Regions from separate parts of the Homo sapiens genome. Here all the other regions are reported to be linked to region 2. The links are microRNA targets in miRTarBase. Many come from high-throughput screens and were not tested one by one. Region 2 holds a microRNA gene; each other region holds the end of a gene's coding sequence.

What was found. Region 2 holds the annotated microRNA hsa-miR-655-3p (AUAAUACAUGGUUAACCUCUUU, at 4,000-4,021, opposite strand). A microRNA usually pairs through its seed, bases 2 to 8, with sites in the 3' UTR of a target mRNA and lowers its output. Matches are read on the target gene's strand: a 7mer-m8 pairs with bases 2 to 8, a 7mer-A1 pairs with bases 2 to 7 and ends in A, and an 8mer does both.
Region 1: miRTarBase lists CLEC4E as a target of hsa-miR-655-3p. Seed matches in the 3' UTR shown: 7mer-A1 at 4,933-4,939.
Region 3: miRTarBase lists CAPRIN2 as a target of hsa-miR-655-3p. Seed matches in the 3' UTR shown: 8mer at 1,330-1,337.
Region 4: miRTarBase lists MAVS as a target of hsa-miR-655-3p. Seed matches in the 3' UTR shown: 8mer at 4,228-4,235 and 7mer-m8 at 4,106-4,112.

Annotation. Positions count from the first base shown.
Region 1 is chr12:8,528,818-8,535,921 of GRCh38, forward strand. CLEC4E (C-type lectin domain family 4 member E) reads right to left here. Exons shown (of 6, transcript NM_014358.4): 6 at 4,488-5,992. The coding sequence ends at 5,821. It also overlaps a transcript of CLEC4D not described here. Among named protein-coding and RNA genes, the nearest start is that of CLEC4E, 8.5 kb to the right of the region's middle.
Region 2 is chr14:101,046,510-101,053,630 of GRCh38, reverse strand. MIR655 (microRNA 655) reads right to left here and starts at 4,081; the gene lies at 3,985-4,081. It overlaps MIR381HG (MIR381 host gene), which reads right to left. Exons shown (of 3, transcript NR_104192.1): 2 at 2,362-2,564; 3 at 1,836-2,029. MIR539 (microRNA 539) reads right to left here and starts at 6,310; the gene lies at 6,233-6,310. It overlaps MIR889 (microRNA 889), which reads right to left and starts at 5,730; the gene lies at 5,652-5,730. It also overlaps MIR544A, MIR487A and MIR487B. RefSeq lists an enhancer at 6,865-7,121.
Region 3 is chr12:30,703,850-30,710,970 of GRCh38, reverse strand. CAPRIN2 (caprin family member 2) reads left to right here. Exons shown (of 19, transcript NM_001385503.1): 19 at 501-1,418. The coding sequence ends at 1,069. Among named protein-coding and RNA genes, the nearest start is that of IPO8, 12 kb to the right of the region's middle.
Region 4 is chr20:3,865,291-3,872,411 of GRCh38, reverse strand. MAVS (mitochondrial antiviral signaling protein) reads right to left here. Exons shown (of 7, transcript NM_020746.5): 7 at 1-6,729. The coding sequence ends at 6,265. Among named protein-coding and RNA genes, the nearest start is that of PANK2-AS1, 20 kb to the left of the region's middle. RefSeq lists an enhancer at 5,899-6,400.

The DNA.
Region 1 (7,104 bases), not on the chromosome of region 2:
GTTATACTATATGTACTACATATAAAGTGTATAAGAATATATACTATATATAAACTATGTACTATACATAATAAACATATAATTACATACATGTTATATACTAAACATATATAGATATATAATCCACATTTTAAATATGAATAGAAATATAATCTACATATTCTTAAACATTTGCATTTTTTACTTAACAATATAGTTTTGATTTATATCTTGTTCTTATAAGTGAATAGCATTTATATTGCATTGTTGCAACATAATTTGAAATAACCTTAAAATTACAAAATATTTTCTTTTTTAATAACACTTAGCAAAGTAATGGCTGTGAAGCAAATCACCAGAGCAATCTCCGTTCAGATTGGGAAAGGAAGGAAATTTTCCAAGGAAGATTTTTTTCCCTACAAAATTATGGGATAGATGGAATGCATTTGAATGAATTGAGAGGTGATATACATTTCTGAAGAGTTAAAAGGTGAATTATGTCAGTACGCAGAAAGCTAGATAAATATAAAAAAATGGGTCCTGTATGGTGGCTCAAGCTTGTAATCCCAGCACTTTGGGAGGCCAAGGTGGGAGGATTACTTGAGGCCAGCAGTTTGAGACCAGCCTGGGCAACAAAGTGAGACCCTGTCTCTACAAAAAATTAAAAAATTAGCTGTGTTTGGTGGTGTGCACCTGTAGTCCTAACTACTTGGGAAGCCGATATGGGAGGATTGCTTGAGCCCAGGAAGTCGAGGCTCCAATGAAGCCATGATTGTGCCACTGTACCCTGGCCTGGGGACGGAGTGAGATCCTGTCTCCAAAAAAAGAAAAGATGTCAATATTAACTCCATAAAAAGCAAAATGTAATTAAAAATATGTAGTAAGAATACAGCAAATGGTTCAGCTGTGAATAATATTTACATATTCATACCAGTGCAAATGTTGAATACTGATTTTTAAATAAATGATTATATAGTGATAGCAGGGGGATGGGAAAGAGAGAGAGAAAGAAGACTATTCTTGTTTTCATTAGTGTGGAGCTCATAGAAATTATCTAAAACTGAAAAAAATCAAGGAATTATAGTATAAACTTTTGATAGAAATAGAAACATGGAACTCAATAGAAAAGAAGCATCTAAACGGTTGAATACGATTGCCACTTAGGTGTGGGAATCAGAAGTGGGCAGGAAACAGCTATTTTTAATTACAATCCTCTAGAAGAATTTGTTTTTTTAAACAATGTGCATATATGTACATAGTGTGCAAATCTATTAATGTAATTAATCTTATCAACATTTTAAAAGAGCTGCTAAAGCATCATCTAGTAAAATCAATAAACCACTTAGTGTTAAAACATTTAACAAAGAAGAAATGAAAGGAATTTTCTGCAGGATGTCTACCCCAAACCTGTAGCAACTATTAGATTTAATGGTAAGCCATTAGAAGCATTTTCTTTAAGTTTAAGAACAAAACTATAGCAGCTTTATGCAACAATATGTTGGCATTCCTAGCCAGCTCAATATGACCAAAAGAACTGGAAGGGAGTTTTAAAAACCCACAACTATCATTATTTCTAGACCAGAACTGTCCCAGGGAAATATAGTGAAAGGCAAAAATGTGAGTTGCATATGTCTAAATTTTCCAGTAATTATATCAAGAAAGCAAAAAAAAAAAAAAAAGCCCGAAGAAGTGAAATTAATTCTAATAACTTATTTTATTTGAACAAACATATCTAGAATATTATCATTTTGACATGTAATCCATATAAAATTCTTAGTGACATATTTTATATTCTTTTTTCAAATTATCAAAAAAACTAGTGTGTATTTTACACTTACAGAATATCTCAATTAGGATAGTGCTTAATAGTCTACTGTGGCTGGTGGCTACTGTACTGGATAGCTCAGTGTTTTAGACAGTATAATTATCTACACAGAAAATAAAAGGGAATGTATGGACAAAATGTTTTAAAAAATTAGGAAAGTTAAACAGTGTTTCTGGATAAATTATTATTATACAAAAATCAACAATATAATACTCTGCAAAATGTACAAAATAATATTACACTTACAATGGCAATACAATTCTAAGATACCCAAGAGTAAACCGTGCGAAATTTTAAAGTTGGTTGCACGACATATATGCTGACCCGCTCAGGCTCTACCTCTCCATCCTGTGCTGAATGACCTGTGTGGACATCCACCTCACCCTGCCCGGTGCCCTGTGGCCCTCCTAGATAGTCCTCCTGCTTCGGCTCAGACACCTTTGCTCAACCACCCCCACGTATGGGCGTCCTCCTCACTCTAGCTCAGGCTTTGAGACTTTGGGACAGTCCAACCCCCACCAGGATGCCCTGCTGAACCCACTGGCGTTCTGACATCCTTACTGTCTCCTGCTTCCCCCACAATCTCCCCTTTACACTGTCTGGGATCTAACTCTCTGAGGGGTAGTCATGCGTCCCTCTCCCCCTCCCGCATATACATGCACACACGTATAAAGACCACCTTGCTCTGCTCCACCCACGTGCAATGATTTTAGGAGTCATTATCAGGAAACGGAAAGGTAGAAAAGGGGATTGGGAAACAGGAGAGCAAAAACATTTGACTTAATTGTTGATTGTTTATAATTTTTTGTTTGTTTTGTTTTGTTTTTTACTTCAGAGGGACCTTCTGGGAAATAACTCTTTTTCATAATCTATAAAGGCTGTAACATTCTTGAACTCAGTAATTCTTCAATTTCACTTCAATTTTTTAAACGTTTGAGGTAATGAATGTGCTAATTACCCTGATTTGATTAATATAGAGCATACACATGTATTGAAACATCGCATTGTATCCCACAAATGTGTACAATTATTATGTGTCAATCAAAACCAAAATAAAATTTAAAAAATTAAAGTATTATCTGTTGTATAATTCCTTTCTAAAAGTGTGTCAATGCATGTGTGTATGTGTGTATACATGTAAATATATATATATATTTGGGTTTTTTTAACTCTTTGTTTTTCCATCTTTTCATCTAACTCTTGAAGTCATAGGGGAGAAAAAGTAACATCTTTTTCTCACCAATTGCAAGGTTCATGGCTGAGGCCCTTATAACAAAACACAAATTAACAAGAGAAAACCATACAGATGTATTTAACGTAAGTTTTACATGACATGAGAGCCTTCAGAAATGAACACTCAAAAAACAGAGAAATCTATGTAAATTTTGTGCTAAGCCTCATGAAGTGGATAGTTGTGAAAAAAAAAACATGGTTAGACAAAAAGCGATATGATCTAATGATAATAACCTAATGAGACTTAGCAAGGCCTGTTTGTTCAGGTTCTTCTTGGCTTCCCTGTACGACATTCTTTCCTTTTGGGTATAGAGCAGGACACCTGTCATAGGAGAGTGTTCAGAGGAGAAAGGAGGAAGAAGGTCAGAGATGACCTTCCTAGATGCTATGGCCTGCTTCCGGTAAGAAAGGCAAGAGAAAGATGAGAGTGGACTTCCCGTTTTTGCGGTTTTCTCAGTTCCCAAGGTGCCATATTTTGAGGTAGCATTTCCTGCACCCCATTAAAGGCATAAAAAGTTTCCTGGAGTGACGTTCATGATAATTATTACTGCAACGTGGAATTGGAATTTTAAAAATTTTCATCTTTCTATAATTGTGATCTGTAGGAATTTTTGGTAATGAACATGTATCATTTTTACAAAAAATAGTAATTTTTCTTTAAAAAAATTGGGGACCCATATAGTAATATGTAAATCTTAACAGTAGTTTATTTTGGGAATATGCTTTTAAGAATATGTATCATGAATTAATCTACTATTCTTTGAAAATGTCTGGGTTTTCTGGTGCCGAAGGTGGTAAAGTGTTTGTGTAACCCCACTTATAAGATATTATACTTTAAAACAATTTCAATTGGATGATCTACTTCTCAAAAAATAATTTTCCTAATAGATAATTTATGTTCCAATAATCTTTAACCACTAAACCCTTAGCAATTCTTTCTTTTCTTGGCAAACTGTAAAGACAAGTTTAGTTTTATAAACCTGTCTTTAAAACTTGTCTTTAAACTTAAATTCTAAATATATATGGAGAAATAATATGGAATAATATTTCCATATGTCTTTCAATCTAGAAATAAAACTTAAATTATAGCCACCTTCAGGGAAACACCAATGAACAAAAAAAAAGTCTTTCAGCATCTCCTTATTGATGTTCATGATTTTAAAAAAGGGAATTAGAAAGTTGAAAGTATGTTTAAAATTACTTTTAGGTTAAATAATTGGCTTAAAGATGTGTTGATTTGAAAACCAGATTGTCACAATGCCTAAGAGAAATAAACTTTTGCAATGAAAGCTGATGTGTTATATTCACTTGTCCAGTTGAATTTTCTCATTCAGTGATTACACGTGGTGTCCAGTGATTGAATTTTGAGGGTCTCCTCATGGCACTTTGTGCAAGAAACATGGTTATGAAAGCTGCCACGTTATTGATGTACTCTTTAATAACGTCATCAGTATTGGTAGAATTTTATGCAATAAATGAATGGGCTATTACTGGATACATACTCAGAGAAATATAAATCTTTCTACCATAAAGACACATGCACACGAATGTTCATTGCAGCACTATTCACAATAGCAAAAACATGGAATCAATCTAAATGTGAGTCAACAATAGATTGGATAGAGAAAATGTGATACATAGATACCATGGAATACTAAGCAGCCTTAAAAAAGAAGATTATGTCTTTTGTGGGAACATCGGTAGAACTGGAGACCATTATCCTTAGCAAACATGGGAACAGAAAACCAAATACTGCATGTCCTCACTTATAAGTGGGAGCTAAATGATGAGAATTCATAAACACAAAGAAGGGAATAACAGACACTGGAGTCTACTTGAGGGCGGAAGGTAGGAGGAGGGAGAGGAGCCGAAAAAAACAATATTAGGCACTGGGCTTAATACCTGGGTGATGAAATAATCTGTACAACAAACCTCCACGACATGAGTTTACCTATATAAAAAGCCTTTAACATGTACCCCCGAAAGCTAAAATAAAAGTTAAGAAATAATGGATGGGCTTGAGACAGGAAAGTGTGGAGATGAATGTTCGCTTAGAATAAATTGACTATTGGACTCGGGTCCTAGCTGAGCAATAGATACAAAATCTGGTGAGATCCATTCAGTCAATTGAAAATAAGGCAGAGCAAAGGAAGCCCCAGGGATGGGTGGACTTGGTTACAGCCTGTTTGGAGCTGATGGCTGGCATGCCCTTCCCTAAGAAGGTGCAGTGGAGGCCTGTAGCCAGAAAGGCCACACCGGTATTCTGAGCAGGAATAAGTTTCATGACTTGAAGAAGCTTCTTACTCATTATACAGGGGAGTAAAGAGACGATATATGCTTGGGCAGGAGATAAGAACGGTATGAAACCAAGAAGAGAAGACAGACTTGTCAGAAGCTAGAAAGAAGAGGACCTGCTACAGAGCCCGGATTCAGGAGATTTTTGGAAGGCACCTTCCAAAATCCCCTTCTTTGCTAGACTCTGTCTTGGCTCCGTGTCCCTGTACTTTCATACGAACACTAAAAAATGAGGCAAATGTAGCAAAAGGTAGTGAATTGCTTTGTAAATTCTGGGAAGAGGACCTGAGACTAACGTAGAGAGAAAATGCACTTCAGCCAGTAACATGAATTATAACATTTAAAACTACTTATTTTTATTTATATCAGAGTAACAAATACTTATGAAGTCCTTTGAAGTTCAGCGCACAAATTTCTCGTGTGGGGCGGTGGGTGTGGCCATGTTCTTGCTCTTCCTTCTTTACACATTTGAGTTGTGCCTTCTGTTCTTAAAGAGATTTTCCTTTGTTCAAAGGATTTATTCCTACCATTTCACAAATCCGAAAATAATTGAGGAAACAGGTTACATCATTCCAATTTTGCCTTGGGTTTGAAGAGTCTCTCATGGTGGCACAGTCCTCCAGGGTAGCTATGTTGTTGGGCTCCCCTACATCCCAGAAGCTGAAAAAGAATGACATAGGAGACTTAAAATCCCAGCAAAAAGAGGTAAAGTAACCTAATATACTAGGCAAATTACATTTGTGTTATTTAACCTCACAACAATTTTGCGAGGTAGGTATTATAATGTCCATTTTATTGAAGAAGAAAAGGAACCTCAGGAAGCTAAACTAGTTGTCGAAGTCACAGTTTGTGAGTACTGAAGCTGAACCGGATCTTTCTGACTTTCTATTCTGTCCTGTTCCTTTGTTCCTTTTCTATTCTGTCCTGTTCCTTAGCTATAGAATGAGAAGTTATGGGGAAGATTGATATTCTGATAGATTTGTTTTCTTCACACTCATACCTCATATCGGCTTAGCTCTCTTTATTCTGCACAGAGTGTGTATTAACTTAGGTGCATCCTGCAGTGATGTTACAGTGTGGTAGTGAAGCAGCATTTCTAACATGTCAGAGTATCTCTGTTGTACTCTTAGAACTGCTCATTAGCTAAGTCACTTAACTCTGCTGAGTTTTAGTTTCCTCAAATGCTAAATAAAGATTAATAATACTGATACATTCCAAGAAAGTGTAATTTAGGTAAAATGAAATAATAAATGAGAAAAAAAATTAAAAATGCTATGCTCTATCAGGAAGAATACCTAATGGATGCTGGACTTAATACCCGGGTCATGTTATGATTTCTGCAGCAAACCAAACCACCACGGCACACGTTTACCTATGTAACCTGCACATCCTGCACATGTACCCTGGAACTTAAAATAAAAGTTGAAGAAAAGAAAAAAGAAAAAACTCACTCCCTAACAAATCATGAGAATCAACATATATAGCAAAATATTTTATATATCAATTAACCAATCTAACAAAAAAAGCATATCCACAATAAAAAATGCTATGTTCTAATGACGTGAGGCTATTATTAAGGAGAAAAGAGACATTATCAAGAGATTCTCATTTTTCACTGCATAAGAACCTGCTGTCTTTCTCAACTTACTATTTTTTTCCTCATTTCCTTCAGTTTTGGGGAATAAGACTCTTAATTCCACCTCTCGTCTCTTTTGCATTCTCAGTGAATGATTCTTCAGTTCATTTTCATTTATTATTTCCCCTTTATTCTT
Region 2 (7,121 bases):
CCACTGGCCTTCTTGCTTTTTCTTAAAGATGCCAGGGGGCTTTCCATGGGCCTTGCCCTCCTCCTGAAATGCTCCTACCCCAGACCTTCCTCTGGTCCACCCCACTCCATTCCCACCCACATCCTCAGAGAGAGCTTTCCAGACCCCTGTATTTAACACAAAGGTCCACCTGCTTTTACCTCTTTCTGTCACTGTAACCCGCTTTCCCTTTCCCCATAAAACCTAGCAGTGGACAAAATTACGCTTCCTAATTCATGTGTTCTCATCCGTCTCTTCCACCAGAATGTAAAGTCCACATGAGCAAGAACTTGATTTCATTCACTGCTCTCTGCTAAGGTCCAGAATCACCTAGAACACAGTGTGCACTCCATCACTATTTATGGAATGACCAAGTCATTCCTTGTTATTTGATCAACTCATGAACCATGTAGTTATGCTATAAACAAAAGAATCTGATTTTTTTAAAAAGAGAGAACTTTATCGAAACAAAATCATGGTGGCCAAAGTCACCAACCCTCTCAATAGCCATTATGGCCATGGGCAGGACACAGCTCTGGCAGGAGAGTGAGCTCAGGGAGACGCCTCAGAAACAAAGCTCAGACTGCTCAACTAACTCTCCACAAACTCCAACAGATGTGGATGCCAAGTCTCCCCAGAGGGCGGTGCTGCTTCCAGAAACCCTTCCCTGGCAAGATTTGGCACTCAAAAATTCTGCCCTGGAACAAAAGCAATAATGATGACCAATTACCTATCAGTCAGTCCGGCTGATGACAGTAACACTACCGAGCCAGCATGTCTCCAGAGATTCATCTTACCAAGGGTGAGGGTCACTTGGAGCAGGTGACAGACGTCTTGTGTGAATGGGCCTCTCACTGGTCAACTTCCCCCAATAATGTAGTGCAGACACCAAAGCCCCTTCCAGAAAATCACAGCCTTAGAAGTAACCATCTTCCTCAGAGATTCGATTCTGGTCATGGCTGTGGCACATGAAGAAGCTAGTGCACTGCGATGGCCCGTTCACATACATACCTTGGGTGGGAGGTGAAGCCAAGACCCCTTGCCTGAAGGCGGGACGCTGTCCGGGAAGCCTTCCAAAGCAGTATTTGATACTGAAAAACTGGATGTCCCTGTATGATTCGTCATAAATTAAGCGAACACAGCAGGGATAACCACTCTTCAAGTACCGAAGGCTGACGGTGACGGCCCACGTCTTCACCAGAGTCTGCCTTCCTTCCAGCTAGTCCGCCTGAGGATGAATTGGGGACAGAGGGTTAGGAGAGTTGAGGGGTGCACAATGTCAATCAAGCCCTTGCTTTCCAGCCAACCATGCATTCTTGCCCCTGGAGAGGGACGAAGGGCAACAGCTCCTTCCAGAAAGCTTCCCCAGCAAGATCCATACTCAAAAAAGGCACTCCCTCATGAGACTGGGCATAAAGAAAGCAAACCCGGCAAGGAGAAGGTCCTTTCAAGTGCCAGAAAATAGCATGGCCTAGGAAACCACCACCTTGTCTTCTGAGCTGATGTGGCCTCCAGAAGTCACTGGATAGGTAGGGACTGTGGATCAACTGACATACACCATTTATAAAATGTACGTTCTCTGATCAACCATCCATTCCCCTATCATGGACAGCACCCTGCCTCCAGGTCAGGGTCCTGCCAGGGGACATCTCCGGGGAGTTTGTCCTGAAAAACAGTGGTCCAATATGATAAGCCACAAACCCAGGCGAGGCCCCACGGTCAGCCTCAACCCTGCTCTGCCCCCGAGGCCTCCAGAGCCTGGAGGCCACAGCATGTGAGTCTTACTCCAATGAAGACACAGGCTCTGCCATGGGTCATCCTTACGAGTATTTCACGAGGTGCTGACACCAATGCCTCCTTTAATAATTCCTTGGAATTATATCCAGGAAAGAGGTGATGCTGAGTTGCATTTGCAGCAGAGAAAGCATTGTAGAGGGAACCTGCCATTGACGAGACCTCCCCAGGTGTGTCAGAGGAGTCCCCCTGCCTCCTCTTGTAGGTAGCCTGGATGCTGAGGGTCAAGGACAGAGAAAGCCTGTGACCTGGCTTGATAATCTGTCCTGTGGCCTCTGGCTCTGCAGCACCTCCTGGATCGTGGCCTCGTGCTGATGGCCAGAACCTTTCCCCGGAGTTGCCCTCCCTTCTGGGGGACCCTCATGGGCAGGCTGCATGGATAATGAGAATTAATGACCCATTTAATAGGTATCATCAATTCAGCCCCCTCTCTGCCTGGGACACGGAGTGGGGCTGAGCACCGAAATGGTCTTGCCCAGAAGTCCCCCAAGGACGGGTTGCTTGGGCCATTGAACATTGGGCATCGTCAGCAGACCCTCCCCCAGGTACCTGGTGATGGTGCTGACATAGACCTCCTCTCTGGTGGCGGGACACCTCCACACATTCTCCCACTGTGCAGGAATGAGGCCAACTGTGTGGTCTTTGTCATGAAAAATGCAAGAGCACTCCGGTGGTTCCTCACCAAGCCCCACGCCGCGACACGAGCACATCGGGTCCCCCGGCCAGAGCCTGTATCACTTCTAGGGCTTCTCCTGAGGGTGGAATGAATTCTCTGGGTTAGCTGTGCAGAGAACACATTCGTCAACAAAGTTCATATCCCTGCGTCACCTCTGTGCCCATACCTCAGGCGAAGCTGACAGTTTTCTTACTGTGAAGCCGGCACCTGCAGGCACCCATAAAGAACTGACTCCACACAGGGACCCCAGCGCACTGGCCACCTCAGATAGGACAAAGCCACGGAGGCAGAGAGCAGTGGGGCTTTGCAGCCACTCCAGGATGCTGCCCCACACAGGGACCACATCCTGAAGGGGGCGGGGCTTGGTGCCACTGCCCTCCACTGTGTTAGTCCATTTTCTGGCTGCTGATAAAGACATACCCAAGACTGGGCAATTTGCAAAAGAAAGAGGTTCAATTGGACTTACAGTTCCACGTGGCTGGGTAAGCCTCACAGTCATGGTGGAAAGCAAGGAGAAGCAAGTCAGGTCTTACGTGGATGGCAGCAGGCAAACAGAGACCTTGTGCAGGGAAACTCTGCCTTATAAAACCATCAGCTCTCATGAGACCCATTCACTATCACAAGAACAGCAAGGGAAAGACCCACTCCCCTGATTCAATTACCTCCCACCAGGACCCTCCCACAACACAAAGGAATTCAAAATGAGATTTGAGTGGAGACACAGCCAAACTATATCATCCACCAAACGGGGGATCAAGGACAGCCTCCCTTCTCCATAACCAGGGGACACGCTGGAGTCCGTGTTCTCCTCTCAAACCAGGTGCTGTGTGCAGGAAGCCCTCCAAGGCAGCATCACAGAGCCGAAGATTCATTAGCTGCATGGTCTCCATCGGGAAGGAGTGAAGGGAACCTGGCACCGTGCCAGTGTCTATGAGCACCAAGCAATGGACCAGGAGACCCCACCAGGTCGGCTGGCAGAGGGAAGCTGACCTGAGGAGGAAGTGGCACTGGGCCAGTGACCTGGGTGAGGAGTGGGAACACAGCCCAAGTCGGCCTGCCCTTCACACACCCACAGAGGTGCTGGACTTCATCCAGGGAGCCACCCTGAGAGGAAAACAGGCTGTCCTCAAAGGAGTCCGCATGGAGGAGTTAACCTCTCCTCAAGTGTCCCAGTGGAGTGGTAAACCTTGTCCTTGCCCCCAGGGACCCACCCTGAAAAGCACTGGGTCCAGGAAGGGACCTAGCCCTGTGGCTAAGCCACAGACCCAGCCACTGGGGGAAGGCACAAGTTGGCATTCAAAGAGGAGGGAACCTCACATAACTCGCAAAAACACATCGCATTCACAGCAAACACAGCAAAGCAACCCAGGGCTCTTCCCTCCACCAGCCTCACTTCCAGGAAGCTTCCCTCACGCAGCACGGAGCCGGGGCAGGGGCTCTCAGCTCACACAAGGCACACACTCTCACGTCTCCTGTGGGGGCGGCCCTCCGAGGCAGAGTCTGATATTCAAAAAGAGGTTAACCATGTATTATTCATGATGAATGAAGCGAACATAACACGGATAACCTCTCCTCAAATATCCTTGCATAGTTCTGAAACGAAAACCATGGCCTCTTCCCCACCGTTGTCTTTGCTTCCAGAAGATTCTTCTTGGGATGAGCTGAATCCCAGGGTTGGGGCAGGGAGGTGTTCACATCCTGCAAAGAAAGCACACGTACTGGCATTGACCTTCCATTCCCGTACCTCAGTCTCAGGGCCCAGGCAGCCCTGGCACCAAAGTCAAAACCCTGACATTGGAACCATGCTCAGAAAGACTTCTAAGGCAGGTTCCATTAAAAATATATGAAAGCTTCCTCCACGGATTCCTGAAAGACGGGATTTGATGACGAGAACCAGCAGAATGCATGTCAGAGATAAGCAAAGCCATCATGAAGAATTCTGTTTCCGATAAAATGGGGTGTCACTGATCCCTGAAGACAGGGTCCCTACCGCAGAGATGGTCTCAGTTCCTGGAATTTCCTCCCGATGACTGCTTGGAAACGGAGGGTCACAGAATTCCAGGGCCCAGCACATCAATAATGAATAAGCGTGCCGTTGACCTGCACCCGACAATCTTGCAGCAGCTTGACACCGGCGGCCCCTCCCTGAAGCAGGTCTTGTATCTGGGAAGCCCTTTGAGGCATGATTTGATTTTAAAGAAAAGTAATCTCATGCTATTTACGCATGTGAAAGTGAACCCTTGTTCACAAACCAAAACATGGCACGTTGATTCTGGGCCGTTCTCCCACGATGGACGGTATATGGCATGTGGGGAGACAGGCGACACATATCACAGGGAAAGCACCTGGTCTCCAGCCCCAAACCACTGTGAGTGTTGTCCACAGACCGGCGGTATTAGCATCACTTGAGAACTTGCTAAAAATGCAGAATCTTGGTCCCTGAATCAGAATCTGCTTTTTAACAAGATCCCTAGGTGATGAAAATCTTAGGAGCATTTTTAAAGTTTGAGAAACACTACTCTAGCCAACTATTCATATGCACACGCACACAAACACACACACACACACACACACACCCCAGAGGTGCTGTCGACCACAACGTCTTATTCCATGAGAGTCTGTCTAAGATGGGGTGGTTCCCAAGGAAGGCACGAAGCCATGCCACGTCCACCAAGAATAATCCAAATACCCAACAGGCAGCTGCTTAGGAGCTGCCAAAAAGTAGTAATAGTAACAGGAAATGTACGGAGTTTTTACTAATGTTTGCATTCCCTACAGGAAGTGTTTCATACTCAGAATGAAGGCTACAGATAGGAGAGGCTGGACCCAGGTTCCCCGGTCCACCATCTACCTAGAGAGAGGCTTGACCCCGGCATCTCTCCAAGGAATTCCTCGTGGCTAAGATTTAATAACAAGAAGAGAAAGAGAGATGAAATAATTGTGAACATCTTCCAATAAAAAGATATGGCACCAAGCCCCTAAATGGCATCTCCACCCCAAAGCTAGCATTTGTCCAAGGAAATCACACTGGTGGCTTGCATTCTGAGATCACTGGATTCATCATTATAAATCATCAACACAGTCACACTCCATGGTGGGGCAGGCACCAATGTCCCCTCACTGAAGTCAGCACTGTGCTTTCAAAAACTTCTGAAGCAAATTTGGATACTAAAACAATGGTTGTCCGATATTAATCATCATAAATATAGAGACCATACTACGGACAGCCATTCTTTAAGCACCAAAGAACTGTGCCATCAAGAAGAGCTGGGCATCTTCTCCAAAGTTGGTGTCTCTTCCAGAAAGTTCTTCTCAGGTAGTCCAAACAATGAGGATTAGCAGGTCAGCTTCACACATTGAGAGTCAAGCCCATGCCTGGGGGTCAGTCACACTCTTGGGCAGGGGAAGGGGGTCTGGCCCCAATGATCGGTCCCTAAGGTTTGCTTCATGTCCAAGAAGTGCCTCCAAGAAGCAGGATTTGATAAGTAGCTTGAATGCTGCGTCACCCACAACACACACCCATGGCCAATGCAAATCCCTGATAGCACCAAGGAGTCCCGTGGCCCCCTGCCAAGCGTGGCCCCGCCTCCAGGGTTCTGAGGTTAGGGCACAAGTGTCCCCACCACAAACCAACTGCATGCGCCCTCATCCCCACCCAGGCGTGAGCCCCTGGGAAGGGCTGATGCGTGCATCCCTTTACAGAACTTGTCATGGCGTCCAGGAAGTCTGCCGAGGCAAGATTTGATACTCAAAAAGAAATTGTCCTTGTATGATTCATCATAAATAAAGCGAACACACCAAGGATAATTTCTCCTCAAGTATGAAACAGCAGCACGGACCACCACCTCCAGGTCTTTGGCTCAAGGTTAGATGGTGACTGCTTCGTGGCAAACCCAGTCACACACTCGCTCATGCACACACACCACGCACACACAGGCATGCACAATGCATGCACCAAGTTTGACCTCTCTTTAAGCACCAGGGAAGCAAGATGCCATAGAATCCTCACTCAGCTTGGCATCCTCGCTCAAGACTCCTTCAAAGCGTAGATAGTGGCCGAGGTCAAGAACCCAGGGACTGTCTCTCTTAAGTGGAGCAAATGTTCTCGGCACCCCTGCTGACCCCCACTGCATGTGGCATTCTGTATCAAAAGCCACTGTGTGAATGGCTTAGCTGCCAAGCATCAAGAGCATCACTAGCCCCCATTGTAAACACCGTGTATGCTCTGGGCTTCCTAGTCCATTCCATACCCGATGAAGGACTTGACTTCCATGTTTTGACACTGTTCCAAAAACCCATGGAGAGATTTTAGTCATAAAACCACCACCACCACCACCACCACCACCACCAATGATAGTTTCACAGCACACAAGGGTCCTGGCTACCACCTACGAAGTGCCGACCACGGGGCTCTGCTCTGAGCCGTGTACAAGTCTTAACTCGTTCAGCCCCAGCAGCCCCAAGAAATGGACGCCAATGTGATTCCCCTTTGACATGTGAGACAATGGGCACAGCACGATGAGATCCTTGCCCAAGGTTGGACGGTTAGTAAATGTCAGAGGTGGGATCCAAACACAGGAAATCGAGCTCCAGAGTCTGCGCTCTTGATACTGAAAAAGTGGATGACCCTGTA
Region 3 (7,121 bases), not on the chromosome of region 2:
GTATGACTTGGAAATAAAAAAAGCATTCATCATCATGGGACTTAGTTCCATATCAATATATCTCTGAATGGCTAGTGGCTAGTAGTTCTAAAAATTGGTTCTTTTATGTAGTCTCCATTTTCTTGAGACCTTCTACATTAGGTGCTTTGTAGAATGACCTCTGAGAAATTAAGAATTATGGGAGGAAGATGAAGTAAAAAGTGTTCAGACCTGAGTTTTAGACTTTGCTAAGTTATCTGGCCTTTTGGGGGCCACATTTTCTTAATCTTAAAAAAGGATCAGTTAGACAAGATTATCTTGGACCTTTCTGGCTTTAGAAGAGTATGTAAAAACCTATTACCAGAAAAATCTAGAAAAGTATAATCTAGCTATATATTGCTTTTGTTTTGGAATTTACTATAAAATGTATCTTTGTCTGTTTCAGTAGCCGACTAATGTTAAATATTGTGTTCAAAGCTAACTGCTTCATTATGAGAAACTCACTGTTGCTAATAAAACAGCAGGGTGGAGTGATTCTTCTCAGGTGAGCAGCCCAGAAAGAGACAACGAAACCTTTAACAGTGGTGACTCTGGACAAGGAGACTCCCGTAGCATGACCCCTGTGGATGTGCCAGTGACAAATCCAGCAGCCACCATACTGCCAGTACACGTCTACCCTCTGCCTCAGCAGATGCGAGTTGCCTTCTCAGCAGCCAGAACCTCTAATCTGGCCCCTGGAACTTTAGACCAACCTATTGTGTTTGATCTTCTTCTGAACAACTTAGGAGAAACTTTTGATCTTCAGCTTGGTAGATTTAATTGCCCAGTGAATGGCACTTACGTTTTCATTTTTCACATGCTAAAGCTGGCAGTGAATGTGCCACTGTATGTCAACCTCATGAAGAATGAAGAGGTCTTGGTATCAGCCTATGCCAATGATGGTGCTCCAGACCATGAAACTGCTAGCAATCATGCAATTCTTCAGCTCTTCCAGGGAGACCAGATATGGTTACGTCTGCACAGGGGAGCAATTTATGGAAGTAGCTGGAAATATTCTACGTTTTCAGGCTATCTTCTTTATCAAGATTGAAAGTCAGTACAGTATTGACAATAAAAGGATGGTGTTCTAATTAGTGGGATTGAAGGAAAAGTAGTCTTTGCCCTCATGACTGATTGGTTTAGGAAAATGTTTTTGTTCCTAGAGGGAGGAGGTCCTTACTTTTTTGTTTTCCTTCCTGAGGTGAAAAATCAAGCTGAATGACAATTAGCACTAATCTGGCACTTTATAAATTGTGATGTAGCCTCGCTAGTCAAGCTGTGAATGTATATTGTTTGCACTTAATCCTTAACTGTATTAACGTTCAGCTTACTAAACTGACTGCCTCAAGTCCAGGCAAGTTACAATGCCTTGTTGTGCCTCAATAAAAAAGTTACATGCACCTTCAGTGTTCCTATTTAATTAAACATTTAGTTGAGAGGTAAAATATCTGCTTTTTAATAGTCATCACTGATAACTCTTGAATGGTTATTTCTTCATGGGCTCATGCTGTTATTTTAAAATAAGACATATATATATAACAGTTCCTTCTAGGGTTACTTTTCTCTGATATTATACATGCCATTCATCAAAACATTTGATCTGTTTTCCATGGGCCAAATCATGCATTCTTCTTGAAGCTATTCTGTTTTGCAGTAGGGCATGGGCTTCCTTTAGTCAGCTATCTTTGGGTAGCTACTACATGTGTAGTAATATACAATAGGAGATACACAGGTAATACTACTGGCCCACCATCAATAAGACTTACACTTTCTAGTGGATTCTCAATTTAATTTGAGCAGGCAAAATGCTAAGACATTGAAAAGCAGAGGCTCTGTGGTCAGGCAATGCTGTGTTTCAGAGTCCTGATTCTGCCACTTAGTAGCTAATCTTAGAGAAGTTATGTTACCTCTAAGATCTCTCTCTCTTAAATACTGTTTCTCAAATGTAAAATGTGAATGGATGATAGATTACCATCAGGACAATTGTGAAGTTTAAGAATATATCTAAAGGATTGAACGTAGTGCCTGGCACATACACGTTTAAGAAATGCAGTAAAATTTAGTGTTCGTTCTAGCCATATGATACTTTCTCACACTTAAAGCTTGTATGTCTTCAGTAATAAGGTTTTTTATTTCTCAGTTTAAATAATAATTTTTGGCCTGGTGCAGTATCTCACGCCTGTAATCCCAGCACTTTGGGAGGCTGAGGTGGGCAGATCACCAGAGGTCAGGAGTTCGAGACCAGCCTGGCCAACATGGTGAAACCCTGTCTCTACTAAAAATACAAAAATTAGCCAGGCGTAGTGGTGGGTGCCTGTAATCCCAGCTACTTGGGAGGTTGAGGCAGGAGAATGGCTTGAGCCTGGGAGGCAGAGGTTGCAGTGAGCCGAGATCATGCCACTGCACTCCAGCCTGGGTGACTGAAAGAGACACTGTCTCAAAAAAAAAAAAAGAATTTTAAAAAGTGAGCATTTTGGTTGCATTTTCGGGACTATATTAAGGGTTGCAGAAGGGCGTTATTACACATCAACTAAAGCAAGTAATCTGCTGAGGCAGAAAATAATTTGCCGGGTCTGACCCACAGACCCTGGCTGAACTATGGATGAAAAAATGTACCCTGACACAGGTATTTTGCCTGACAGAGTGATGAGGGGACTTCACTGCTCAGCACCGCTGACGAGAGAGTACAGCGAGAGTGAAGCCCCAATAAGCCAGCAATATTTGTATTTATTTAGTACAGATTTAATGACAAAAGCTTTGAGTCAACACACGTGTGGGTAATTAACATGCCCGCTCCCCTCCCCCACCCACCAAGAGAGCAGTCCTGTGCACGAATGATTAAAGGCCAGGTTCCAGGTTCCGAAGCCTGAGTAAACTAACTTACCTAGATCAATTCCTTTACATCCCCTTGTTATCTAACCTAAGCTTTTAAGAGAATTCAGCTGCCTTCAGCCAAATTGTCTTTTGAAGCTTTTGCAGAACCTCCTGGCCTTCCAAGAAGGTTTGCTTCTTTCTATAATTTCCTCTTATAATTTCTCCCACCGCCCTGTCTGAACTCCTACAATAATTGTTTTGATCCTCCTCTCTGAGGTGTTGAGTAATCTCAGGAAAACGGTATAACAGCATTACGTTTATTACAGTTGCTATTTTTGAGCTGGGTGTGGGTTCAGCAATTACACCCTGAAGCCATGTTTAACTCTCCATGGTGTTAAATGCTAGTGTAGTGTTCTCAAGATAGAATATGTGATTTGATTCAGTACCTCACATAACTTTTTCAGCTTATGGTAGGAATTTTGTAGGGTAGGGATAATAGTATTCCAGTTAAAAAAATTAGTTCATGGCTTTTATGTCCATAACACAACTAAAAAGCACATAGAAAAGTGGTAATATGATTAAATGATGGAGGGGAAAACTTGATGTTTAAGAACAATTGGTGATCAGTAGGGCCTTTCTCTAGCTGTGAATTTCGTACTGCATTAAAGTATTCAGCGTAGTTTTTTTCTTACACACACAATGTTTATTTAAAATACTCTGGGCAACTCTATATTTTTTTAAAGATAAGTGTCCAACATCAAGAGAGTCATTAATTAGGGTATCCCCTTATGGTAAGAGTCATATTTTAGGAGAGTATTTGAAATGTTACTTTGCTAAGTATAAAGATAATGAACTAGACATTTTTTGACTTATAAGAATGAATGGACAAGATATTTCATTCTGAAGCAGTATAACTTTGAAGCTAGTTCTGGAAGCTATTACTAAAAGCAGATGTCTTTACGGAAAGATGTGCACATACACAGAATTTACATACATTTGTAAGAGATAGAGTAGGGATCCAGAGATATCTAAAGTCCATTTATGGACCTTGTGGAAAGAACTTATGTTTTGCTGGGAAGATCTTATTGTAGATATGGCTTACATGGAGAGACATTCCATATAATTATTCCATATAATTATCTGAATATACAAATACTTAGTTGTTTTACTAAAAGCAGAGATGAGGGAGGTAAAAGAAGTTTCCTGTTTACTAGATTCTCCTCGGAGTTTTTTAAGTTTTTTAGTCTTTTATTAAGTGATGTCTCTCCTCCCTACGCCCAAAGTTGTGAGCCACTGACTTTTATCTCCTCTAAAATGATTTGAGTAAATGCAGGCATTTAAAGCAGGATTTTTTTAAGAGGTTTGCTCACTTGTTTCCTGTACTAGTTATCTGTCAACCATCCCATTTTTCTGTTTACCTTTCTCAATTCCATAATAGCTTTATTTTTACAATCCTATGACATCACATACTGTGTTTTTATACTCTTAATCTTTCCTGTTTGCACAGTTAAACTCTTTAGCTTTAATGATCAGTGTTCTATTGTGAGCCTTATGATAACTAGGATGTTATTTTATGTATTTTAAAGGTGAAATAATTGTTAGCATATACAGTGTTTCCATATTGCTAGGTACAGTGGCTTACGCTTGTAATCACAGCACTTTGGGAGGCTGAGGTGGGTGGATCGCTTGAGTGCAGGAGTTAGACCAGCCTGGGCAACATGGTGAAGCCCTGTCTCTACAAAAAGATATAAGAAATAAGCTAGGTGTGGTGTCGTGCCCCTGTAGTCCCAGCTACTCAGGAGACTCAGGTGGGAGAATCACCTGAGCCTGGGCGTTGAGGCTGCAGTGAGCTGTAATTGTGCCATTGCACGCCAGCCTGAGTGGCAGAATGAGACCCTGTCTCAAAATAAAATGTTTTTTTGTATGACTTATCTCCTCCTCTGCCAAATACTTTAAATAATTTTGATGAGAAATTTAGCTCTCTGGTTTCTCTACTTGCTACTCTATATCAGGGGTGTTCTTACTGACCACTTTCGTGATTAGGCCACAGTAGTTTTGTTCTCATTTCGACAGTTTACAGGTACAGCTCATTTGCTACCAGTGCAAGATATTGAATGCTAGATTATAAAATGATTGTATTCATTATTAATACCAAGAGGACTTAGCCTCAGTAATTCTGTTTCTCAAGCATTACTCCTTTATTCATTTTATTTCAAAGACCCTAAACTTTGGTAATGATTAGTCTTTCAAATATTTGGGTTATCTGATTTGTATCTGACTCTGGGACTACAAAGATGAACGACATTCAAATATTCAGACACCTCAGGTGTGTCCATTTCACCCACTGAGAGCAAGTCTCTTTAATTATTCATTTGATTTTTATCACACTTTTCCTCCTCTCTGTCTGAAAGTGTTACTATTCAAAAACTAGATTTTTGGATCACTTCTATAACTTCCTTATCTTTTCTCTTGTTTCTGATTTTTATTGGGAGATTTCTTTGACTTTATCTTCCTACCTTTTTATGAAGTTTTAAATTTTCATTAACATTCAAAATTTCTAAGTAGACCTGTTATCTGAATGTTCATTACATACAGTTGTCCCTCAGCATCCATGGGGGATTGTTTCCAGGACCCCTACAGATACTAAAATCTGCAAATGCTCAAGTCCCTGATACAAAAGGGAGTAGTGTTTGCCAATAACCTCCACACATCCTCCTGTATACTTTAGATCATCTCTAGATTATAATATGCTGTGTAGATGCTATGTAAATAGTTGTTATACTGGATTGTTTAGGGAATAATGACAAGAAAAAATGGTTTGTACATGTTCAGTACAGAAGCAAGCATCCTTTGTTTCCCTGAATATTTCCAATCTGTGGATGTGGGACCTGTGGCTATGGAGGGCCAACTGTGTATGCTGTTCTTGTTTCATGATTGTGTTATTTTCTCATTACTCTAAGGATAGTTTTTTAAAAGGTTTTTTTTGCCCTAAGTAGTCTATTTACTACACTTTTTCTATTCAATTCACTTAACTGCATTGTTTTATTTGCTCAGAATCTTGTGATAATTGGCTGACTGTTTAAGAATGGAGCACCAACCCCACACCTATTGGGGGGTCATCCTGGAAGGACATCCAACAAAGTTGGAGACCCCAACTCTGGTATGGGGTGTGGGGTGAAAAGCAGGTCAAATTCAGGTTTCAAGACAGGCCAAGCTCAGTGCATTTTCTTGTCCACTGCCTCAGTTTACCTACATTCAGAAGATGGTCCAGGAAGAGTTGAGCAGAGTTGGCTCCAAAACATTAGGGTGCTAACAGCAAAACAATTCCAAGACTTCATCTTGCTGTATGCCAAAATAATTTATCTTGAGAGATGGGGATGAGTGGATGGTGGGTGCATGGTGGAGCTCTGAGGAGCCCGGTCCAGAGCCCCATCTTAGGGGGATACAGAGGACTTCCTGCCTGCTCACGGCCCCCTCTGGCCCTCACTTGGCGTGCACAGGTCACCATCCATAGCAATGATGCTTCATGGGTCCCGAGGTCTAGGTGAAGGGGAGAACTGACCATCCTATCCCAACCTCCTGGGGCTTCATGCTTATGTTCTTATTGAAGAAACACAAAGCCCTCGAGATTCATGTAACTGTATGATGGAGAGAAAAAAGTACCTAATGTTTCCCAAAAAAGGCAGTATATTTTGTACTTTGTAAAGTGTTGATTAAAATGAAGGGGAAAAAAACAGGAAAAAAAAAAGAATGGGTCACCAAAAAGATGACTGGAAGCTTGAATGTAAAAGGTAGGGCTTACTCATTTGGGGCTTCATGATAGCATTATTTTTTGTCAGGGTAGGGAACACCAATGTAGGGGTATGGAAGAGCATTCTAAGTGGGACACAAAACCCAGAAGCCCTAAGGATAAATTAAACACACATAATTTATTCCCACAAGACTTTTGATTGGAGGAAAATATCAGCATCAGAAGACAAAATGGCCACCTGCAGTGGGAGGAAATCAATAAATAAAAAAGGGCAATGAATGTGAAGAAGCAGTTAATACATGAAAACATTTTCAGTAAGCGTATTTAAGGTTTTAAGGCACATACTTTGGCAAGCATGTGGGGAAATGGGCATTCATGCTGTAGTTTGGAATAAAATTAGTCTATTTTTGGAGAGTAAATTGGTAATGACTGTTAAGGTAAAAACACACACACACACACACACACACACACACACACACACACACACACACTTTTGACCCAGAAATTCCGCTACTAGGAATTTGCCCTACAAATAGTA
Region 4 (7,121 bases), not on the chromosome of region 2:
GGCTGAAGTGCAGTGGTGCCATCATAGCTCACTGTAACTTCAAACTCCTGTGCTCAAGTGATCCTCCCACCTCAGCCTCCTGAGTAGCTGGAACTTGAGGCACATACCACCACACCCAGCTAATTTTTAAATTTTTTGTAGAGATAGGGTCTAGCTGTTACCTACACTGGTTTTGAACTCCTGGCCTCAAGCAGTCCTTCTGCCTTGGTCTCCCAAAGTGCTGGGATTATAGGTATGATCCACCACCTCCAGCCAAAATCTCACTTTAAGTGGGGTCCCTAACTCCAGACATGTGATAAGCTGTGGTTCACAGGCATAAAGAACATCCAGCCTGGGGCCCCGGGGTCAGAGTTTTCCCTCGCATTGTCCCCTGGGTCCTTCATCCCTCCTAATCTTGCAAACCAGCTGTCAATTGGGTTGAGATGGTATCTCTTTCATAGGGTCATTATGAGGATTAAATGACTTAATATATGTAAAGCACTTAGCTTAATGCCTGGCAGACAGTAAGGTATGGAGTAAGTTGTAACCCTTATTATTATTGCTGTTGCTGTTAGCAACAGAGTGAGGAATGCTAGGAGTGACCATGCCCAGCACCGAATGAGGCCTTCATAGCCTTGGGCTAAAAGAAAAAGAGCAGAAAGGTGAACACAGGGGAAGGCCTCAATTTCAACACAGATGCATTAGACCAAGGACTCTGAACTCACTTTCCCTGGAGGTGGGGGTGCTATCAGCTGCTTAATGGAGCATCATGGAAAATGTGGGACTCAAGGCCTGAAGGACTCCATTCCTAAGAGATGGGAGCAGGAGACATGCTACGGAGTTTGAATCTTGCCTAGCACAGGGATTTCTGCCTGCTGGAAGGGCTCTGTCAGGGCCTAGTGGAAGCCCCTGCCTCAGTGGGGCAAACTGCCACTGGACACACCCATCATTCATCATCACCTCTCTGGGACAGTAGTAGCAGCCAGGCACCTCCAAAGAGCTTGACAACAGAGGAACCCGCTTCGGCCCCTCCTCTGAAGACAGGATCCTGCGCTACTCCAACTCTGAACTGGTTCAAGGTGAGAGACGTCATCCACAGAGGCCACAAAACCAAGAGGTGGATGCCTCATTGTTACTTCATGCTGTCTGGGAGCAAAGAGAGGGCCTTAGGCACAAAATCCTCCAGACCCGCATCTGCCCCTTGGCTTTCTCAACCCTTCACTCTCCAACTTCTATAAATAACCTGTACAGTGGCCAGGCACCGTGGTTCACACCTGTAATCCCAGCATTTTGGGAGGCCAAGGCGGGCGGATCACTTGAGGTCAGGAGTTCGAGACCAGCCTGGCCAACATGGTGAAACCCCATCTCTAACAAAAATACGAAAATTAGCCAGGTGTGGTGGCGGGCATCTGTAATCCCAGCTACTTGAGAGGCTGAAGCAGGAGAATCACTTGAACCTGGGAGGCGGAGGTTGCAGTGAGCCGAAGTTGCACCACTGCACTCCAGCCTGGGCAACAGAGCAACACTCTGTCTCAAAAGAAAAGAACCTCTGCAGAATGAGGGGAAGCAGGGAAGCAGGCAGGGGTGAACAAGATGGCCATGAATTGATAATTACTGAAGTTGGGTGATGGGCTCATGGGGATTTGTTATTCTACTCTCTCTACTTTTTTGTGTTTGAAAGTTCATAATAAATAATGTTGCTCAAAGGAAGCTATTAATAGTTTGAGGCCAGGCAGGGTAAAGAGCATCTCCTAGATTTTTTTTTTTTTTTTTTTTTTTTTTTTTTTTTTTTTTTTTTAGAGATAGGGTCTTGCTTTGTTGCCCAGGCTTGTCTCAAACTCCTGGCTTCAAGGGATCCTCCCACCTCGGCTTCCCAAAATGCTGGGATTACAGGCACAAGCCACCACATCCAACCTCCCTCATATTTGACTAAGAAGTCTCATAAATCTGAGAACACCTAGCAAGGAATTAAGGCGAGGGTGTGGCACTGTTCTGGCTTCAGTCTATCACCAGGCAGAGTCCACGCATTCTTCCCAGGGAGAAAGAAGCAGTGACAGCTCTTGGGCTTTGAGGGAAATGATTCAGCGGGAGAAAGAAGGTGGAGAGGGGCTAATATGCAGATACCATTGCTGCAGGTGGCTCTGCCCCTAAGCACTGAGGAGGGCACTGGTCCCTCTGGCCCCACCCAGCCTTCACCCCAAGGTGAAGTACGCTTTCTCAGGTCCCCAAGGATGGGTGGCCAGGTCCCCCACTGGGAGTGGAGGTCTCACTCCCTTCCTTGGGTTCTGACCTCCACATTATCTGGCTGTGAGGGTGACCTGCCTGGCTTTCCCCACCAAGTGCAGCTCCCCGCAGCTGAAAGCCACACTCTCAACACAGGACTCCTGAGATCTGACACTGGCCAATTCACACCCTGCTTGAAGCTGGCATTTGAGAGGCCTTCAGGTTGACAACAGCAGCAACAAGTTTGCTGTTCAAAGTAGGCCAAGTCACGGCTTTGAGCGGCATCATTTGAAAAGTGCTGGGATCAGCCAGGCGCAGTGGCTCACTCCTGTATCCCAGCACTTTGGGAAGCCAACGCAGGTGGAGCACTTGAGGTCAGGAGTTCAAGAACAGCCTGGCCAACATGGAGAAACCCCGTCTCTACTAAAAATACGAAAATTAGTCGGGTGTGGTGGCAGGCCTCTGTAATCCCAGCTACTCGGGAGGCTGAGGCAGGAGAATTGCTTGAACCCGGGAGGCGGAGGTTGCAGTGAGCTGAGATCATGCCACTACACTCCAGCCTGGGCAACGGAGTAAGACTGTCTCAAAAAAAGAAAAAGGAAAAAAAAAAGTGGTGGGGTTTGGGTGCAGTGTCTCACATCTGTAATCCCAGCACTTTGGGAGGCTAAGGCAAGATCTCATGAGGCCAACCTGGGCAACATAACAGCATGACCTCATCTCTATAAAAAATTTAATTTGGCTGGGCGCGGTGGCTCACGCCTGTAATCCCAGCACTTTGGGAGGCCGAGGCGGGCGGATCACAAGGTCAGGAGATCGAGACCATCCTGGCTAACACAGTGAAACCCCGTCTCTACTAAAAGTGCAAAAAAATTAGCCAGGCGTGGTGGCAGGCGCCTGTAGTCCCAGCTACTCTGGAGGCTGAGGCGGGAGAATGGCCTGAACCCAGGAGGTGGAGGTCGCAGTGAGCTGAGATCGCGCCACTGCACTCCAGCCTGGGTGACAGAGCAAGACTCCATCTCAAAAAAAAAAAAGAAAAAAAAATTTAATTAGCCAGGCATGGTGACAGGTACCTGAAGTCCTAGTTACTCAGAAGGCTGAGGCAGGAGGATCGCTTAAGCCCGGGAGTTTAAGGATACAGTGAGTTATGATTGCACCACTTCGCTCCAGGCTGGGTGATTCTCTAAAAAAAAGAAAAAAGAAAAAGATGGGAGGATGGGAGGCGGGGCTAGGGGACTGGGAAGGTCCCTCAACCCTTTCTACATGCCTTACCCAGGGTATCTCCCATCATGGCTGGTTACTGTGCTAAAATTATAATTTTTTTTCTTTGAGACAGAGTATCACTCGGTCACCCAGGCTGGAGTGCAGTGGTGCGATCTCAGCTCACTACAACCTCCGCCTCCTGGCGGGCTCAAGTGACTTATCTTCCCACCTCAGCCTCCCATGTAGCTGGGACTATAGATGGGCGCCGCCATGCCCAGTTACTTTTTGTATTTTTTACCTAGGCTGGTAGTGTGCTAACATTCTACCACTTGGGCAACAGTCTTCGGGGCTACATACTGCCTTTTTTTTTTTTTTTGAAACAGAATACCACTCTGTCGCCCAGGCTGGAGCGCAGTGGCACAATCTCGGCTCACTGCAACCTCCGCATCCTGGGTTCATGGAATTCTCGTGCCTCAGCCTCCTGAATAGCTGGGATTACAGACGTCTGCCACTACACCTGGCTAATTTTCTTATTTTTGTAGAGACGGGGTTTCACCCTGTTGGCCAGGCTGGTCTTGAACTCCAGACCTCAGGCGATCTGCCCACCTTGGCCTCCCAAAGTGCTGGGATTACAGGCGTGAGCCACTGCGCTCGGCCCATGTTGCCTTTTTGAGATACTTTTTTCAAAGCTACCCTGGAACGGTAATACAATAAAACTAGTACCTGTGCATAAATTGTTAACTGACCTGCCCAGCATGGGTACCTAACTGGGGTTTAGGGTAGGGGGACAGAGGGCTTTTTAAGATTGGTGGTGGGGGATGGGGATTAATACAGACAGCTCGGGTAGGGTCCACTCCTGGTTCCAGGGTGCAGGTTGCTGGACTTGGAGCATGGGATGAAGAGATGTTCAGAGATAGAGATCATTAGGTTGCTGAACTCCCCTAGGGCAGTGGAGTGAAAAAGCTGTAGCAGCCAAGGCAGGGTGTAGATCCCTGGAGGCTGACGGCTTGGGGTGGGGCCACAGTGAGCCCAGCCCCTGATGGCTCTAGTTCTTGTCCCTTGCAGAGCTCAGAAATGGAGGTGGCTCCTGTGCCTTGTCCAGCAATGGTTCCCTGAAAAGAACCCATAAGGATACCCCCAATCCACCCCAATGTGTTTCTGGTGTTATTGTAGATAATCTCCCCAACAGTGGGTGAGCTTGGGGTGAGGGAACCTGGCTGCTGGGAGTGGAAACGCCCTATATCCTCCATCCTGTACAGCTGCCCAGTGGACATACCTCTCTCCCCAGCAATTTCTCAAGGCACAAGATAAAGTAAGGGGCAAATACAAAGATAAAGCTGTGAGGCAGGAGGGTCTGAGTCTGCCTCTAAAGGAGTAGCCAAGACTCCTGTTTCTCTGCATTTTTCTTTTTCTTGAGACAGGGTCTCGCTCTCTCACCCAGGTTGGAGTGCAGTGGCACGATCCTAGCTCACTGCAGCTTCAAGCTTCTGGGCTCAAGTGATCCTCCCACCTCAGCCTCCCAAGTAGCTAAGACGACAGGTGCACCACCACGCCTGGCTAATTTTTTAAACTTTTTTGTAGAGATGGGGTCCCTGTTGCCCAGCATGCCTGGACCCTCAACACTTAATAGTGATAATAACATATATCCAACCCTTGGTAAATGCCAGGACTCATCCTAAGACCTACATCGATAAACTCCTTTAATCTTCACAACACTGGGAAATATATATATATACTTATCCTCCTTTTACAGGTGAGAAAACTAAGGGACAGACAGATAAATCCCTTGCCCAAGGTCACAGAGCTGGTGAGAGGCAGGTTGGGACGCAGGCCTAGGCTGCCTGTGCTGCAGAGCTGCACCCTTGACCACTGTGCACTCTGCCTCTCATGCCCTCAGCTCTACCAGGTTGGGCAGGAGAGAGATGGGAGAAGCAGTGGCCACTTGCTCTGGGCCAGGCACTTGGCAAACACCTGTAGGTTCAATCTCAGAAGAACCCAGTGAAGAATGAGCCAGATACTCACTGTCCACGTGGAGAAGCAAGACCAGAAGTCTGACATCTGCCAAAGCCACACAGCCCCGGAAGTGAGGGAGCTGAAATCCAAACCTCTGCCTGAGCTCTGCCCACCAGGTGTCTCCTCCCCAGCCCATGTAGGGAGCTGAAGAGAATGGAGACCAGAGGGGAGGGAAAGAGGAGGCTGGAGAGGAGCTCCACAGGTCTTCCTCAGGCCTGACAGCTGCCCCTGGCTTCCCTGAGGTCCACAGGAACCTCCAGACCTTCCCAGGATTGCCCAGCAGGGGAGGGGGCCCAGTGGGGCAGGAACTCAAGGCAGTTGGGCTCCTGGAGAGCAGCCACCCTGCCGCTCCTGCCTGCCTCAATGCAACGGTCTCAGGCTGGGCTGCCAGGATGGGAGGCAGGTCTTGTGGAGTCGCCCACACACCACATACCTGCCCTGAGGCCTTCAGGGACCAATGCAACAGGAGAGGCATTCCCAAGCACCACATGTTCCAGTGGTCCCTCCTGCTCCACCTGGGCCAACAGGGCTGAGGCCTGGAGGAGGAAGCTCCTCTGGAGGACATGGATGATAACCTGGATTGCCAGTGGGGAAGGTCTGGAGCACTGGGGGCAGCCCAGGACCCAGAAAGCCAAGGACGGGGACCCACACAAGGCACCGTGGGGACAGAGATGCTGCTCTCAGGACTTGGTTCAGCCAAGGCATGTCCTGCTGCCAGGCCTGCAGTCCCTTAACTCCCCTCTGACCCAGCCTCCACAATCCCCAAGAAAGGGACAAGGGGCTTCGGAGAGGGGCCAGGTGTACTGCAGGAACGGAACAGATGGGTGGTGGGAAGAGCCCAGGGCTTCACTAGTGCAGACGCCGCCGGTACAGCACCACCAGGAGTGTGACTACCAGCACCCCTGTCACAGCCACCTGGAGCCACAGAGCCCCAGGTGAGGGCCTGTGGCATGGCACCTCCCTCTCCTGGAACTTCCGGTCGGCTTGTGGCCTGGGGCCGCCATCCGGGTCCGCAGGTGGCCCAGGGTTGCCCTCCAGGAGCTGGATGCTGGGGTTCTCAGCCACGTGGATCCCAAAGGTGCCCTCGGACTTATACTCATTCTCCTCTGGGCCATGGCAGGGCCCCATGCCCAAGGAGGTGCTGGCACTGATGGCAAGATCCTCGAAGCAGCCCGAGAACGGGCTGTCTACCTGGGATGCCAGCACGCCAGGCTTACTCAGCTCCGACCCAAGGCCCCTATTCTCAGAGCTGCTGTCTAGCCAGGCTGAGCTGCCTCCAGTGGCGCCGGCGGGTGTTGGAGCTGCTGGGGTCTCCTGGGAAAGAAAGGAGAGCACTGGAAGGGACTGGGGTTGGCAGGGAGACGAACCTGGTAGGGCGGTCCCATTCCCAGGCCAGGGCATGAACTAACACTCCAACCCCTCAATTCCCAATCTATAATGCCCCTAGGCCACCTTTTCTTGGAGCAGTGGGGGTAGAGGGGACCAAGAATCTGCACCAATGGTGGCCTCCTCCAGGGCAGCCTTTCCCTACTCCCTGGCCTGCCTGTGAGCTCATGCCCACCTGGAAGCCTTTGGTAGGGCGGGGCTCCATCCTGCACTGACATCCTGCCTGGGCCTGAGAACTAGAGAGCAGCCACAGGGTCAGAGGCCTGGCCATGTGCCCAAAGGGCCCTATGGACTTGGCTCTTCCCAGCAGACAGCCGCAG